Homo sapiens: one gene and its partner. The protein of the gene in region 1 purifies or fractionates together with the protein of each later gene. This does not show direct contact. Each region holds a gene or a part of one and is shown in the gene's direction. Other genes may lie near its edges. The genes, in order: MPC1 and RAB8B.

Region 1 (3,831 bases):
ATGTTTTCCATTTAATCCAACATATGTTAATTTCTTTTTGAATTTTAATAAAGTTCCTTATTTTTCTCAAAATTGACTGCTGAATATCTGACAGCATAAATCAATTGTATTCTAAAAAAGGGAAGAGAGAACTAGAATATTGTACTAGATAGAAAAGATGCATTATAAACTTTCTAAGGTTAGGTATTTTAGTAAACTAGTGTTAAAATGATTTTTACCTTTCGTGTTCTTCTTAAGAAACATATTTTCAGTATAGCTCAACACTTACAGTCATAAGTGTATGTATAGTTCTTAACTTGCAGAACTGTTTCCTATAACCTAACACTCATCACACTTAAACTTTTTATTTTTTTAATTTTTTTTCTTTTTTGAGATGGAGTCTTGCTCTGTTGCCCAGGCAAGAGTGCAGTAGCACTATCTTGGCTCACTACAACCTCTGCCTCACGTGTTCAAGCGATTCTCCTGCCTCAACCTCCCTAGTAGCTGGGATTTCAGGTGCAAGCCACCACACCCAGCTAATTTGTGTATTTTTAGTAGAGACGGGGTTTCACCATGTTGGTCAGGCTGGTCTCAAACTCCTGACCTCATGATCCGCCTGCCTCAGCCTCCCAAAGTACTGGGATTACAGGTGTGAGCCACCATGCCCGGCCCATACTTAAACTTTTAATAACATCACTTAGCCAGGAATCTCCCAAGGCTACTTTAGGTTTAGATTTATTCCATTGTCCATTTCTGCTTTAGCCCCACCTATGAAAGAAGACACATTCACAACCAGTGGTAGAGAAACTGTGGTTTATATGCCCCTCTTAGAATAACTCTTCAGGCTCTGTTTATAGCCCTGGGTTCATGCATGATAAAGTAGACAGCAACACCACCATACAGTGCAGAGGAGTGGCAAGAGAGTAAACGGAAAAGGAGATGAAAATAGACCAAGTGGAGAAAGGCCTGGTCAAAAAAGGAGGAAAAGGAAGATCACTATGGAATAATAGAGAGTTGAAAAATGAAGTGACACCCAATAACAGGACGGGTAAGAAAAGAAGTAAGTAGGTAAGGGAGAGATAGATACTCTCCCTTACAAAAGTCTGGGGAATAAGGAAAAAAGAAAACTGGCCATATTGCATCTAAATGTAAGAAATTAAGGGTCATTGTTAATAGAATTCTGCAGGAGTGTACTTCTCTCCAACTTGTCATTTTCTTTTTTTTTTTTTTTTTTTCCCTGAGACGGAGTCTCGCTCTGTCACCCAGGCTGGAGTGCAGTGGTGCAATCTTGGCTCACTGCAACCTTCACCTCCCGGGTTCAAGCAGTTCTCTGCCTCAGCCTCCCAAGTAGCTGGGATTACAGTCACCTGCCACCACGCTGGCTAATTTTTATATTTTTAGTAGAGACAGGGTTTTACCATGTTGGCCAGGCTAGTCTTAAACTCCTGACCTCGTGATCCACCCGCCTCAGCCTCCGAAAGTGCTGGGATTACAGGCGTGAGCCGCTGCACCCGACCCAACTTGTCATTTTCAAAGAAATATTTCCTCCAAAGCCTTGCTGTCCAATTTGAGAGCCACTAGTCACCTCGTCTAAATGTAAGAAATTAAGTGAAAGTTGCAGTAGTGAGTATCTTAGATAACATGCAGTCTGAATGCAAGATAACTAATTAGCCAGCCCAGAATCTCAAGATTCTTTAAACCAACTGTGCCTAATTTACAGAGTTTATAACTCACATGTTAAACCCTGAAATACTTATGGTGATGGCTATGTGGGAACTTTGACCTTTTGTAGTTATCTAAATGACCTTGTGGCTTTCATGTTAAATAAACATTTTTAAATATTCTATTATGCCAAATCTAATTCCCATTTATTTTTCTTATATTTCCCTTGGTTTACCACTTTTTAGGGAATCTTTGGATTTTAACCCCTCGTCAATAGTAGAAGCAAAGTCTGAATTTAACCTAAACATTATGATAGGCAGAAGTCAAGCAAAGACTGTTTTTACTCTTTAGTGTTAGGATAACTAAAAGGGGTGTTTAGCCAACAAGATGTGGTTCCTTTCAGATTTGAAAATATTATTTCCAAATTCTAAATTAATGAAACAATTTTTCATCTTTAATGAACAAAAGCCACAAGCCTTATTTTATTTCAGCCTCTAAAATTAAATTGATTGTGGCTGCTGTCAAACACAGACGACTTCACTTTGGTATCCTTGGATGAGTGTAGTTGTGGAATGAAAAACTATTGGTTCATTTCTTTAATATTAATATAAGTTTTTGCTATTATGTCAAAAGTACTTTCCAATCTTAATTTCTTAGTGTCTGGGGTCCTGGGCATTGATTTCCAAGTTATTTTATCTTAGAATAGCTCATATGAGCTGAAAAACAATTTATTCTCTTATTAAGCTTCTTTCTTCAGAAAAGTACCCAATTTAGGGTCTGCATTTTAAGAATTATTAACAAATATCTTCATAAAAATTTGGGAAAAGGAGTGTGGATAGATTTAAACATAAAAATATGGAGAATAGTTCTAACAGGGTTTGAATTATAGCAACAATGGATTGTGTAAGAAGTGAATCTTATTTTTATTTTTAAATGTTCTAAATAGGACAATCAGAGATGACTTGGTTGTAGTGTGGAAACCAGTAGGGACCTTGGGAAGCTGCCAAACCCTTTCTAGCTCTGGGCTCAGCTGTAAGAACTGCTGATTCCTACAGGAACACTTGGACAATCCAATACCTAAATGTTAACCATCAATTAACCCAGTAAACCTGCAAGATGGAAACGAAGATTTGTTCTCACGAGTTTCACGTGATTATTTAAAGTAAGGGAAATTTCAGCTGTTTATAGTTCTGTCTTAACTTTTTCCTCTCTTCATTCTTTTCCTCTCATTTTTTGTAGCACTTCTGGGGCCCAGTAGCCAACTGGGGTCTTCCCATTGCTGCCATCAATGATATGAAAAAGTCTCCAGAGATTATCAGTGGGCGGATGACATTTGGTAAGAATGCAGATTTGGATAATTGGGAGGACTTTCAACATAGTAGAGCTCCTGCTTGCATTTCAAGATTGTAGCACTAGATGTTACAGTCACTATTAGAAAGTCACATACAGAATGTGATGGCATGGAAGAGTGTTACTTCTCTATGTCAGTAAGAAACAAGATTAATTAGAAATATTTATCTAGGAAGTAGTAACATCTTATTTGCCTTTCAGATTTAGCACACTGAACTGAAGACTGTGTCATCTGAATCATTCTAATAGTCACTTTAATGATTTATATTGTGAACTTTTTTGGGGGAAACTGTCATTAAACTGACTTGAAACCCTGATATTTGAACATAAAACTATTGTGGAGGGAATAAATAACAATTCTTTCAGATAATGAATGGATTATAAGCAACTCCAGGAGACAAAAAAAGTGTCTAGAACAAATTTCAGCCTACTCTTGCTCGGAAATATGTTCCTTAAATGTTTAAATAATTAACAAAAATGCATAGCAGTACAGTAAATTTTTTTATGAGCTTCCTATTGATACAGGCATTTAAGTAACAACTTTTATCTGTCAAAGGCTTTCGCAGAAGAGGTTCTTTTTTGATCAGGGCAATGGAACTGTTCATCTCTGTGGTCCTATCAACCCTCTCAGTTTTCTAAGTTATTGATTGTCTTTGCTCTGCTATTTTTGGCAGCCCTCTGTTGCTATTCTTTGACATTCATGAGATTTGCCTACAAGGTACAGCCTCGGAACTGGCTTCTGTTTGCATGCCACGCAACAAATGAAGTAGCCCAGCTCATCCAGGGAGGGCGGCTTATCAAACACGAGTAAGCAGATTTCAATTTAGTTACTTTCTTTTC
Region 2 (3,166 bases), on another chromosome or scaffold:
TATATCACATGAAGAAAATATTTGATGAATGAATGATAGTTTGATAACATTGGAAAATGTTTATGATACAATCTCAAAAGAGTAAACACATGCATACTATGATTACAATTATTACTTTCTTAATGTAAAGCTTTAAAGTGGTATATTTATATTGAAATAATGAAAAATTCTGTATTTCTGTTTTAAAATAAGTCAGGCATGGTGGCTCACACCTGTAGTCCCAGCTACTTAGGAGACTGAGGTGGGAGGATTGCCTGAGCCCAGGAGTTCCAATTCAGCCAGGGCAACATAGCAAGACCCCATCTCTGAGGCGGGGGGAATATATATATGTGTATATATATATATATACATATATATAGTGAATATATAATAATGAAAATGTTTTGTTTTACCTATAGGCATTTTTTACACTTGCACGAGATATAATGACAAAACTCAACAGAAAAATGGTTTGTATCACTTATAATTTTTATTTCCATTATGCTGTCTGTTTGGCATTTGATGAAAAGGATAGGTCTAATTATAAGATACTCAAATTAAACTCATTTTTTTCCTGACTCAGATACTCATTTGGTTGAACTCTGATTCTTAGTTCTGTTTGTTTAGGATTCTTATTTCTGAGCTGCCACTGTTTCAGTCCTTTCTTCTGGCTCTTTAAGTGATCTTTAATTGAATTTTGATGAGAATAATGAAAATAATAATGGCACAAATTCGATTTTTGCCATAAAATTATTCAGTTTTCATGTGACAGGTATTTATATCTGCATAACTACGATTTTGAAGTTGCTAAAGTTTGCTTAAATTTGAAATCATTAAGACAACCTTGAAAGTTTGTTTTATCCTGAGTCCTGACTATAATTGCGTACCTTATGCTACTAACTCTTCTTACCTCTAACAGAACTGTCTATGCCAGTATCTTAACATTGTTTCCATCATTACCTTTGAAACTTTACACTCCATTGGAACTAGAAATAGAAGCTTCCTATTGAATACATTATTGATATAAAAGCTGCTATCGTAAGGGCATTTTCCTCTTTTCAATTCACCATTTCCAAAGAAAAAGACAACATTGGTGCTTAACTAGTTCCCGTTCTAATAAAATACTCTAGTGAATACACATTTCACTAGAATACACATTTCACATGGTATGGTTAGTTATTTTTATTTTTTAGGTAACTGAGGTCAAACCATGAAACTTTTATTTCCTTGGTAACTTCATCTTCTATTTTTTAGAATGACAGCAATTCAGCAGGAGCAGGTGGACCAGTGAAAATAACAGAAAACCGATCAAAGAAGACCAGTTTCTTTCGTTGCTCGCTACTTTGATGAACTCTTTCTGAGAGACTGCAGCACACCTAGAGGGCCCTTTCCTGCTTCTCTGAAAGCACAGGTCACCCAGCCTCAGAATCACACCTCCCGGCTGCTGCTGAGAGCACCACTGAACTTAGACCTCTCAACACAGTATGCCAAGTGGATTCCAGCCTCATGGCCTAGCAAAAGAACAGACTCCCTTTTTCAAACATGGAAGCAATGAAGTGGAGACACATGCAGGACCTAACTCGTTTTTTCCTTGTTTTATTACCTGTTGCAGAAGCGGTTATCTTTCTTTTTTACTTTGCACATCAGTGTTAGCCTTTCCCTATTTCAGCACAATCTTAGACTCATATTTGCACACTTTTGTGTCGTGAAGTTCTAGACAAATTTGTACATGTGGCAATGTTAAAAGAGCATTTACAGCAGAGGTTAATATACTAAAATTAAAGGGTATTTGGTCTGGTTCATATGGTCAAATATTACTGCCTTGGTAGCATTTATTTAAGGGCTTTTTCTTAAATAAGAATCATTAAAGTCATTAAAAAAATTTACTGAAATGCCCATCTTGTCATCAAAGGCCACAATTTCTTTATTTCTTCAGATTAAGAGCTTTGCCTCATCCCCGACCTGTTTTCCAGAGTCTGGGTAGCTGAATGAATCACTTTAAAATGATTACCTCTGCCTAATCTATAGAAACTGCATTTGGAAATCACCATAATCTCATTTTTCCCTGGGGTTTGTATTTGCTATTCTTTCCCATGTTTGACTTAAGTGTAATCACTCTTAAGTAATATTTGAACATTATTATCTGTTTCTATTTGTGAACTTCTTGAGCTGAAATTTTACGTGGGCTGAGAGATATACCATTTAGGGTTTTAGTGCAGCATCTAACTGTGATTCTGTCAATAAGGATATGTAATATATTTTTTCTTAGGTTCACTCCTTAGCTGGCTGGTTTAGTTGTAATACCAAATTCCTACCATAATCCCTGTCTACAAAAGTTAGGTTTAGATTTTAGTTTGCGGAAACCTTCCCTATATAGAGACAGATTAACTTGTTGATATAAATTTAATAGAGCTAGCTCTTGGTAATGGTGAAAATAATGAGTTTTGGTTGGTTTTATTTGGCAGATGTTTTTAGAAATAAAAGTACTTAGACCTAGTGCAGCCTCTAGGAAAAGTCTTGCCTTTTCATTAGAGAAAACAGGACCAAGGTTTCAGTTTTCAAACAGCTGTTGTTGATTGTGTAGAACCCAGTTCCATCTGTTTTGGTTCATTGTTACAGAACTTAGTCCAGTCATTTGGGCTAAAGCCAACCAAAAGCTTAGTTGCCTTTCTCAACAAACACTGGTACTGGTATACTTTTGTAGATGAAACCATCACAAGGTATTTAGTGTTAACTTGTGTGCCAAATTCAGATCACTATGTCGTTGTTGCTCTAGCCTTCAGTGTCATAACACAGGGGGGATAAAACAGAGGGGATGAGGGAAATGAATTCTGTTAATAATTATTCTTCCTGGTATGCCTGTTTTGCTTCACAAAGGCTACTATCATGCTGGATAGATAAGAACAGGAGATGGCAGTGGAAAGGGATTGCTTGTTACCACAGAGAATTCTCTTCAAATTAAGATATGTCATTAGAATGCTTGGACCAGTCAATCTTTTGTACTTATTTGAAAATATAGGAACAATTTAGCAGCTGCAAATATGCCCAAGCTATTTTTAATAGATATACTAAACTTATTGTTGACAAATTTCAGCCTCCTTAATTTTTTTTTTTTTGGTAATTACCTATAGGCTTAAAAGTCATTCGTTGCTGTTCTAGTATAATTAGTAGTTCCGTGATTGAAAGT

What was found.
Region 2: the proteins of MPC1 (region 1) and RAB8B purify together in Homo sapiens (affinity purification with mass spectrometry; one large-scale study listed by BioGRID and IntAct). This does not show direct contact.

Annotation. Positions count from the first base shown.
Region 1 is NC_000006.12:166,365,941-166,369,771, reverse strand, and holds part of MPC1 (mitochondrial pyruvate carrier 1), read left to right. Parts: intron 1-810; exon of another isoform or gene 811-1,039; intron 1,040-2,587; exon of another isoform or gene 2,588-2,803; intron 2,804-2,880; coding exon 2,881-2,977; intron 2,978-3,665; coding exon 3,666-3,798; intron 3,799-3,831. UniProt on the Homo sapiens protein: Mediates the uptake of pyruvate into mitochondria.
Region 2 is NC_000015.10:63,262,294-63,265,459, forward strand, and holds part of RAB8B (ras-related protein Rab-8B), read left to right. Parts: intron 1-398; coding exon 399-449; intron 450-1,233; coding exon 1,234-1,326; 3' UTR 1,327-3,166. UniProt on the Homo sapiens protein: The small GTPases Rab are key regulators of intracellular membrane trafficking, from the formation of transport vesicles to their fusion with membranes.